2 separate regions of the Homo sapiens genome follow, and region 2 is linked to region 1. The links come from fine-mapping of genetic effects on gene expression. A gene starts in region 1. The other region holds a variant in brackets. All regions are shown on one strand. Distances are between the middles of the regions.

Region 1 (5,337 bases):
CTGCCATGGCACTGGGGCTCCTGGGGCCCTGCTGAGCTGAGGGTGGCCAGGGAAGCAGGAGTCATCTACGGAGAACGGGGCAGAGGGCAGGCGCACAACAAAAGCCCGGGTCGGCTAGCCCAGAGACAAACCAAGGCAGGGCATCCTTTGGCCCAGCAGGGCAAGTACAAAAGGGTGTGGCTTTTCTAAGTTCTGAATGTCAGCGGAGGGGCAGGGAGCCCCACACTCCTCCCGACATGCTAACTCCAAGGGCCCTAGGACACCGTACACCTTCCATGCTGGCTAAGTCTGGGGAAATAATCTGGTGAAGAAAACAGAGGCCTGCCTCACCGAGCAAGAAAGGTGAGGGAATGCAGAACAGAATGGGCAGGCCCGGCGTGGTGGCTCAGCACTTTGGGAGGCCGAGGCGGGCAGATCACGAGGTCAGGAGATCGAGACCATCCTGGCTAACACGGTGAAACCCCAACTCTACTAAAAATACAAAAATTATCTGGGTGTGGCGGTGTCCCAGCTCCTCGGGAGGCTGAGGCAGGAGAATCGTTTGAACTCAGGAGGCAGAGGTTGCAGTGAGCCGAGATTGCACCACTGCACACCAGCCTGGCGACAGGGCGAGACTCTGTCTCAAGAAAGAAAAAAAAAGGGCAGCGCCAGGGCCTGGAGGCAGGGCAGGACGGCGGAGAGGGCGGGATGTAAGAACCTGCCTTCTGCTCCCACACAGGAGGGGCTGGAGCTGCTGTGAAGGGAGAGGCCTTGGAGGAGGCTCCTGCAGTTGCCGGCCGGGTGGAAAGTCAGGGTTACGAGATGCCCAGAAGGGAGTGCAGCCCGACCACAGCTCTTATCGGGCGGAGGCTCACACAGGTTAGCCTCCGTTTCCGACCTCCCTGCCCCAGCAACTCCAACTAGAGACGCAGGCACCCCCATAACGACAGGCGCCGGGCTTCCCTCGGCCTGGAAAGCTCTCCCTGGGGTCCCCAAAACAGACACCTTCTCTTCATTTAGCCCCCGGGAGCCCTCCCGCCCTCACACTGCCCTCATGCCAGCATCTGGAACCTCAGTGTTGACTGAACTGTGGTGTGCTCAAGCTTCCAGCATAGAGGTGCACTCGGCCTGGCCACCACCCCTGGCACACAGCAGCAACAGCCAACCCCATCTCGGCTGTACCTCCCGCTGCTGTGTGACCTCCGGCAGGTGACTCAGCACCTCCCTCACAGGCTGTTGTAAGGGAAATGTTTGTTATTTGCATGTTGCTTAGTTCCTGGCATACAGAAAGTGCCACCTAAATGTTTACATAAATAACACCATAGGTGCTCAGGAAATGGTACCACGGGCTGGCAGACACCCACAGGGACTTCTTGCTGTCACCTGGCCCACCCTAAAAAAGGGTCTCCTTCCGGAGGTAAGAGGACTTGGCCTCTGCTGTGAGATGGCAGAGAAGCAGGAAACACGTTGGGGAGGAGGGCACCCCCCAGAGATAGAATTCCAGGGCCATTGTCTGTGCAGCCACAGAGCAAACACTCGGCCTTTGTTCCCGGGACCCTGCGGGAGGGGGGCCTCGGGATGCCCATTCCGCCAGTGTGGCCCGCAAACCCGCCGGACAGGTTTGGTTCTCCTGGCCTCCCGGCCCCCCGCCACCCCGTTCACCCGAAGCCTGGGACCCAGCCTTCATCCCCAGTGTCTCCCCCGCCCGAGCCAGCAGGGCGGCTGGGCCTCCCCGCACGTGCACGGGTTCGAATCCCGCCGACGCACCGGGTGCCAGGACCGAGGGTCAGCCCTCTCCGCGCGCAGCGGGAGCGCCCACCCCAGGGGCGGAGGCGCGGACGTCCTGCCGGGGTAACCCGCGGCCGCCCCCACCTCCCGGGCCCGCGTGACTCACCTCCCAGGCCAGGCGGGGCGGGATGGAGGCGCGCGCGCGGCCCCTCCGCACAGACTTCCTGCTGCCGGGGCGGGGGATGCTGGCCCCGGCTCCCCGGGCCTCTCGCGACCCCCATCCCCCTGGGCCTGGGACGCGGGGACCCCCGAGCCTGGGAGGGCGCGCGCAGTGCGGGGCGCGGAGGGAGGTCTGGTCCTCACGCGAGGTCCCCGCCTCCAGGGTCCTCGGAGGGACGAGGGCGCGCAGCCTCCGCGTTCCCCTGCAAACTTGCGCGCAGCCGGGGGCGTGTCCGTCCCGGGAGGGTCCCCCCAACACCCGGGTCCCCAAGGCTCTTACCGACCAGTAAGCACAGCACGTCGAGCAGCACGAAGACCCACCTCCGCTGCATGGTCCCCGCGACCCCCGACGCCGGTCCCAGCGCGTCCCGTCGCGTCCCGGCCCGGCCGCGGAGTCACGTGGCGCGGAGCCCGCCCCGCGCGGAGAGGAGGGGAGGGGCGGGAAGGGGAGGAGGGGAGGGGCGGGGAGGGCACGAGGGGAGAGGTGAGGAGGGGAGGGGAGGGGAGGAGGGAGGGTTAGGGGCGGGGAGGGGAGGAGGGAGGGGGAGGGGAGGAGGGGAGGGCTAGGGGCGGGGAGGGGAGGGGGGAGGGGGAGGGAAGGGAAGAAGGGGGGGAGGGGAGGAGGGAGGGGGGACGGCAGCGGCGGGCAGGGGAGCAGCGGGGGGGGCGGGGCGCGGCGGACCCGGGACCGCGCGGACTCTGCCCCCGCCTGGCCGCGGCGCCCAAAAGAGCGGGTGGGGCGAGCGTGCGGGCGCCACGGGGACCTCGTCCGCCCGGAGTCCCGGCCCTGACCCGGGCTGTGCGGGTCTCCGAGCGGCGTGAGGTCCTCAGAGGCTGGAGGTTCCCCGCGGGTCGGGCCGGCGGAGCCCCGGGCGGGGACGTGGAGAAGGAGGACGAGCAGCGGCGGGACCGGCCCCGCGGGACGGTTCCCGACTTTCCTCCTCAGGGAGTGGCAGCCGCGCCGTGTGCGCCTGGAAACTCCGACAGCAGGAGGCACCTTAAAGTGGAAGGGGCGACGTGGCTTCATTTCAGGAGTTTCTTTTCTCCTAATACTCAAAATCCTGGCGCGTCCTTGGACCCCTGGCACGTTAGAAGCTCGAGTTCCTCGGCACCCACCTTGCGACGGCGTAGGGTGTCCAGGCGCAGCCCTGTGCCCAGGCACCGTTCCTATCAGCGCACTTGCTGTCCCATTTCACAGAAGAGCACGGGGGCGCCAGGAGCTGGGAACCCCATGAAATGGCGCCGGGGTCTGTGCCCCCACCAGGTCGTGGGGAGCCCTGAGCTGAGGGTGCCTGGGGATTGAGGGCACCTGAGCCAGGGAAACCCAGGCCCAAGGGACCCACACTGGGTCCTTTCGGCTGGGACCATCCGGGAGGCCTCAGGAGTGTCAGACCCACGTTTCCGGAGTCCAGCCTTGACCTCTGCCACTCACGGTCACTTAAATGGGAAGTGGCAGGCCTGGGGTCAGAAACAAGGCTGCTGGGCCCCAGATCCGCTGCCACCCTGACCCTCCTCTAAAACCCGTTCAGCACCACCATCAGCCCCCTGCCCCAGCAACACCAAAACAGGGTGCGTCTCAGCAACTGGACTTCAACTGGGAGCTCCTCGACCCTGCTTCCCGGATGGTCAGACACCTGCACGTGGGGCAGGGGGGCATCATGAGGGAACTCCAAGGGCAAGGGGCTCTTGGGAGACAGCAAAGGCACCCAGAGTGGTGCTGGGTGGGAAGACGGTGCAAGCTGACCTGTGGCCCTCCAAGGGCAGGGTTGAGGTGCTCCCTTGCTGCACTCACGGTGGGGTGGGGGGGCTCTAGCTCCCGTCGGAATTAGGATTGTGAGGGTTCTGGTGCCTAGCATCAATGCTACATAAATGTAGGGTTCAGCGTCACTACTGCGCTTTCCCCCACACTTCACCCTGTCTGCAAATGAGTGACCACTGCTGTCAGTGTAGTCTTGACAGCCAACGCACATTTTCTCCTAAGATGGAGAGGGTGCAACATCTACTGGAGTCAAGGAAAGGCGGTGTTCTTCATTGAGCACCTACTGTGTGCTGGGGAGCAAGGGAGAGGTCACTTGGAGGGGCCTGCCAAAGTGGGAGCGGGGGGAAGACAGTGGGGGCTGTGGGATGGGGCCAAGCCAAGAGGGAGAGACCCAGGAGAGGGGTGGAGGTAGACCTGGGAGGATAGAGGGTGGAGGTGAGGCTGCAGGCTGTTCCCCCTTCCATCCTTCCCCTTGGGTCAGGATTTGGGTTAGCCCTTAAAATCCCTGGGCAGGATAAGGATTAAAATCTGGTGGGGAAAGCAAGAATTAGGATTAGGGTCAGGATTGGGGTCGTCTCCTACATATGCTGACTGCAGCCCACCACACTTCAAGGAACTTCTTGTCACGGCTTTCATAGCTGGATCTGCTGCTGCCCCCAGCTGCCTGGTCCTCCCTTCCAGGAAGAACCTGAGGCCAGGGCAGCTCCCAGCAGGGACAGAGCCTGGCCTGGAGGCCAGGCCTCAGTGGCTTTCTCCTTCACCTGCAAATAGCAGAGCTGGAAGCGGGTGGTGGTACATGTACCCAGGCTGGGTCCCCTAGAGACAAGCAACCCCTGAGGGCCAGGTCGCCACTCCCAGGCAAGCAAGCTCACGGGTTCAGCAACTGCAGCTCCCGCCTCTTGCCCAGCACTGGCTCTGCCACCTTGGTGCCTCATCGCAACCTGGATGGCTCCGGGCCTGTTTCCAAATGGACTCTATGGAGACTAAGACACCTGTGAAGTGGGCAGAAGGGGGCCTGGCACACAGTAGGTGCCACCTAAGTGCAGCCAGCCACTATACCTGCCGTTGCTTTCTCTGCTTCTCTGGGACTTGAGAGGTGAAGTACCTTGCCCAGAGTCAAAACGGGAGTTGTCTCCCAGGTTCCTGGCACGGGGCTCTTGGAGTCGAACGAGTGCCCGTCAGTGGGTTTGACGTGCAGGCAGTGGGCAGGGAAGGCTGAGGGGGTGGATGGTTTGGAAAGACATCTAAGGTATCCCTCAGTCTCTGTCTGCATAAAGGCGGCAAGACAGTAGCTACCACCTGGGATTGTAGAGAAGATTAAATAGTTTGTGAAATGCTTGACCCAGGGCCAAACATTAGGAAACATCATTTGAGGGTTAATTGAACAAAATACAGTGTGGGTAGGTATCACGTGTTTGCTGGGTCAAGATGTAGAAGGTACTTCTTCCTGGGGTCAAGATTTAAAAGGGTTGGAAACCGCTGCCTTCAAATTCACAATCCAGGACCCACGAATTCAAAATTCCCCTCGGACTTTGCAATCCTTGGAGTGCCTCTTAATTTAGTGTAACCTTACAGTCAGTCAGGGACAGGGTAACCCTCCGGGTTTCAGCACCGCGAGTCTGCTGTGCTCTGTCTGTGAGGAGGTCTTCACT
Region 2 (5,364 bases), 26 kb after region 1:
TGCACCACTGCACTCCAGCCTGGGAAACAGAGCAAGACCCTGTCTCAGAATAAAACAAGAAAACAAGGCCAGGCGTGGTGGCTCACGCCTGTCATCCCAGCACTTTGGGAGGCTGAGGCGGGCGGGTCACCTGAGGTCAGGAGTTCGAGACCAGCCTGGCAAACATGGCGAAACCCCAGCTCTACTAAAAATACAAAAATTAGCCGGGCGTGGTCATGGGCGCCTGTAATCTCCGCTACTCGGGAGGCTGAGGGAGGAGAATCACTTGAACCCGGGAGGCAGAGGTTGCAGTGAGCCAAGATCGCGCCACTGCACTCCAGCCTGGGCGAGAAGAGCGAGACTCCGTCTCAAACAAACAAACAAAACAAGAACACATCAGACAACAAAGCAGGTCTACACACAGCCGATGTTAAGAGTCAGCACACGAAGACTTCAATCTAACGAGGATTAATACGTTAAGGAAATGGACAAAACGCCGGAGAGTCTCAGCAGAGACTTGAAATTTATAGAAAAGAATCTCAAGGACCTTCCAGGACTGGATAATACAATACCCGAATGGACCCACTGAACAGCTTTTTTACCAGCAGCCTGAACACAGCACAAAACACAATTAGTGGAATCAAAAGGAAACCAATGTTTACAAGACCAAAACCAAAGTGTAAAAGGAAAGAACACCGTTTAGGGTAGTACAAGACAGTGAGGCAACCTCTAAGATACGTGTAAATGAGTGACAGAGAAAGCAAAGAAGGAGGCAGCACAAAATCTGAAGAGGTAACAGCCAAGAATTCTTCAAAACTGACGACTGATACCAACCCACAGAGCCAGGAAACTCAGGACGAATACAAGGACACACGAAGACGTGTGCACAGGCACAGGAGAGCCAAACTGGTGAAAAACAAACAAATAAAGGAAAGGAAACAACTCTTAGGAGAGAAAAGGGCACAATGACTTCAGAAGAAAGAGTAAGACCGTCCTCTGACTTCTCAACAGAAACGATGACAGCCAAAACGCAATGGAGTGAAATTTTTCAAGTGTTGAAAGAAAACACCCTGCAAACCTGGAAAAACATGCCATGAAAATATGCTTTAAAGAATGAAAGCAAAAATCCAGGCTTTTCAGACAAAAAAATGCTGAAAGAAAGCACAAGGCCTATTACAAAGGAAGTTCTTCCGGCTGAAGGAAATGATTCCAAATGGAAGCTGGAGGAAATATGTGGATAGGATAAATACAAAGAATGTTCACTGTTTAAAACAACAATGTTATCATCTTGTGATATGTAGATTTTTTTTTTTTGGAGATGGAGTCTTGCTCTGTCCCCCAGGCTGGAGTGCAGTGGTGCGATCTTGGCTCACTGCAACCTCCATCTCCGGGGTTCAAGCGATTCTCCTGCCTCAGCCTCCCGAGTAGCTGGGACTACAGGTGCCCACCACGCCTGGCTAATTTTTGTATTTTTAGTAGACACAGGGTTTCACCATGTTGGCCAGGCTGGTCTCAAATTCCTGACCTCAGGCAATCTGCCTGCCTCGGCCTCCCAAAGTGCTCGGATTATAGGCATGAGCCACCACAGCCGGCTCATATGTAAAATTAACGATAGCACAAAAGGCAGGGGGCAGGTAAATTGAGTTAAACTGTTTCTTGCATTGTAGGGGAACTAGAATGTACTTATTTCAAGCTGTGAGGCCCGGTGTGGTGGCTCACTCCTGTAATGTCAGCACTTTGGGAGGCTGAGGTCACTGGAGGTCAGGAGTTCAAGACCAGCATAGCCAACACAGTGACACCTCATCCCTACTAAAAATACAAAAATTAGCTGGGGATGGTGGCGTGTGCCTGTAGTCCCACCTACTTGGGAGGCTGAGGCAGGAGAATCGCTTGAGCCCAGGAGGCGGAGGTTGCAATGAGCCGAGATCACACCACTGTACTCCAGCCTGGGCGACAGAACAAGACTCTATCTCAAAAAAAATGTAGACTGTGATAAGTCAATAATTCATGTTGTAACCTCTAAAGCGCTAAAACTAAAACTTATAAGCTGAAACAGAAGGACAAAATAAACCTATTAATCCAAAAGAAGATATAAAAAAATTAAAAAACAAACAACAGGCCAGGTCCAGTGGCTCACGCCTGTAATCCCAGCACTTTGGGAGGCCGACGTGGGCGGATCACGAGGTCAGGAGATCGAGACCATCCTG[G/A]CCAACATGGAGACAACCCATCTCTACTAAAAATACAAAATTAGGCCGGGCGCGGTGGCGGGCACCTGTAATCCCAGCACTTTGGGAGGCTGAGGCGGGCGGATCACGAGGTCAGGAGATCGAGACCACCCGGGCTAACACGGTGAAACCTCGTCTCTACTAAAAATACAAAACATTAGCCGGGAGTCATGGCGGGTGCCTGTAGTCCCAGCTACTCAGGAGGCTGAAGCAGGAGAATGGCGTGAACCCGGGAGGCGGAGCTTGCAGTGAGCTGAGATCGCGCCACTGCACTCCAACCTGGGTGACAAAGCGAGACTCTGTCTCAGAAAAAATAAATAAATAAATAAATAAATAAATAAATAAAATAAAAATACAAAATTAGCCAGGCATGGTGGCGGATGCGTGTAATCCCAGCTACTTGGGAGGCTAAGGTAGGAGAATCACTTGAACCCGGGAGGTGGAGGTTGCCGTGAAGTAAGATCGCATCACTGCACTCCAGCCTGGGCAATGAGAGTGAGACTCTGTCTCAAAAAAAAAAAAAAAAACAAACAAACAAAAAACAAAGAACAGATGGAACACACAGAAAGCAAAGAGCAAGATGGTGGCATTACACAATTGTTTTATAATTACATGACATACAAGTGATTTAAAAAATGTACATGGACTAAAAAGTCTATTAAAAGACAATGGTTTTCTCAGACAATTAAAAATAAGATCTAGGTCGGACACAGTGGCTCACACCTATAATCCCAGCACATTGGGAGGCCGAAGTGGGCAGGTCACTTGAGGTCTAGAGATTGAGACCAGCCTGGCCAACATGGTGAAACCCCATCTCTACTAAAAATACAAAACTTAGCTGGGCATGGTGGCGGACGCCTGTAATTGCAGCTACTTGGGAGGCAGAGGGGGAAGAATTGCTTGAACCCGGGAGGCGGAGGCTGCAGTGAGTGGATATTATGCCAATGCACTCCAGAGACTCCGTCTCAAAAAACAAGATCTAAACATGTGCCATTTACAGAAAATACACTTCAAATATAGGAATCTAGAATGGAAAAAAGAATGGGAAAAAACCATGCAAACACTAAACAAATCAACAAAAAGCTGCTGTGGTCACACTGATGGCAGATTAAGTACTTATTTACGGTAAGAAGTGTTACTACAGAGAGACACGTCACAATGGTAAAAGAAACAATTCAACACAAAGACAAAGCAATCTTAACGTGTATGCACTTAACACAATGTGAAGTAAAAATGGACAGCATTAAAAAGGGGAAATAGACAATCCACAATCAGAGGAGGTCATTAACAATCTTTCAGTAAATAGAACAAGCAGCCAAAAAAATTAAGTGAGAATACAGATGATGTGAACAACAATTATCCAGCGGATCCAAGGGAATACACGGAAAATTCCACCCAACAACAGCACAGCACACTCTCTTCAAACACGTACAACATTTACCAAAACAGATCAAATAATGGACATAAAGCGAGGTGCAACTAATTACAAAGAACTGAAATCACGGAGTATGTTTTCTGACCACAGTGTAATTCAATTAAAAATCAGTAAAAGGAGGCTGGGCGCGGTGGCTCACACCTGTAATCCCAACACTTTGGGAGGCCGAGGCGGGCAGATCATGAGGTCAGGAGATCCAGACCATCCTGGCTAACACAGTGAAACCCCGTCTCTACTAAAAAATACAAAAAACTAGCCGGGCGTGGTGGTGGGCGCCTATAGTCCCAGCTACTTGGGAGGCTGAGACAGGAGAATGGCGTGAACCCAGGAGGCGGAGCTTGCAGTGAACAGAGTTCACGCCACTGCACTCCAGCCTGGGCCACAGGTGAGACTCTGTCTCAAAAAAAAAAAAAAAATCAGTAAAAAGGCTGGGTGCTGGTTCATGCCTGTAATCCCAGCTCTTTGGGAGGCCAAGGTGGGTGGATCACCTGAGGTCAGGAGTTTGAGACCAGCCTGGCCAACATGGTGAAACCCCATCTCTACTAACAATACAAAAATTAGCTAGGCGTGGTGGCGGGCGCCTGTAGTCCCAGCTACTCAGGAGGCTGCGGCAGGAGAATCGTTTGAACCTTGGAGGCGAAGTTTCCAGTGAGTCAATATTGCACCACTGAACTCCAGCCTGGGCAATAGAGCGAGACCCTGTCACACACACACACAAAAAGTAAAAAACAGAAATCCAGCAACAGGGAGACATGAACAAGGCTAAAGTTAGTCCTTTGTAAAGAGTAATACAATTGATAAAACTTTTTGTTTTTGTTTTTGAGACGGAGTCTCGCTCTGTCACCCAGGCTGGAGTGCAATGGCGAAATCTTGGCTCACTGCAACCGCTGCCTCCCGGGTTCAAGTGATTCTCCTGCCTCAGCCTCTCCAGTAGCTGGGACTACAGTTGCGTGCCACCACGCTCAGCTAATTTTTGTATTTTTAGTAGCGACAGGGTTTCACCATGTTGGTCAGGCTGTTCTCAAACTCCTGGCCTCGTGATCCGCCCACCCCAGCCTCCCAAAGTGCTGGGATTAAAGGCATGAGCCCCCACTCCTGGCCTCTCACATCTTAAAGAATAATTCCTCCAGAGGTTAGGAAAAAGGCACACTTCCAAACACATTCACGAAAGCAGCATAACTCTGGTACCAAAACCAGACACGGACAAATAAAAATAAAAGGACAGGCCAGTACCTCCATGAACATACATGCAAAAATCATAAATGTGAGCACATCAAACTGAGGAGGGAAGGGATTAAATACGTATATGTTGATTTTCATTAATCCAGGTGCTCACAGCGAGCATGTAATCACTGCACCAGGGGATACACAGCATTTTCATCAAGCAATCAATACATAAACTTGTTTCAGGTGTCCACTTAAAGACGCCTTACTGCAGGCCGGGTGCAGTGGCTCATGAGTGTAATCCCGGCACTCTGGGGGGCTGAGGCGGACAGATCACTTGAGGCCAGGAGTTTGAGACCAGCCTGGGCAACAAGATGAAGCCTGGTCTCTACAAAATAAACAAAAAAAAAATTAGCCGGCGTGCAGTGGCGCACATCTGTAGTCCCAGCTACTCGGGAGACTGCAGCACGAGAATCACTTGAGCCCGGGAGCAGAGGTTGCAGTGAGCCAAGATTGCGCCACGGCACTCCAGCCTGAGCGACAGAGCAAGACTTTGTCCAA

The links. PIP is the estimated chance that this variant, and not a neighbour inherited with it, causes the effect.
Region 2: its variant is the best candidate, but not a certain one, in a credible set for the expression of PLPP2 in visceral fat (GTEx, PIP 0.70).

Annotation. Positions count from the first base shown.
Region 1 is chr19:289,079-294,415 of GRCh38, forward strand. PLPP2 (phospholipid phosphatase 2) reads right to left here and starts at 2,325. Exons shown (of 6, transcript NM_003712.4): 1 at 2,207-2,325. The coding sequence starts at 2,258. RefSeq lists enhancers at 823-1,521, 978-1,491, 1,522-2,219, 4,919-5,337.
Region 2 is chr19:315,017-320,380 of GRCh38, forward strand. All of the region lies in intron 7 of MIER2 (MIER family member 2), which reads right to left. Among named protein-coding and RNA genes, the nearest start is that of PLPP2, 26 kb to the left of the region's middle. The variant G/A (reference allele first, on the strand shown) is at 2,187.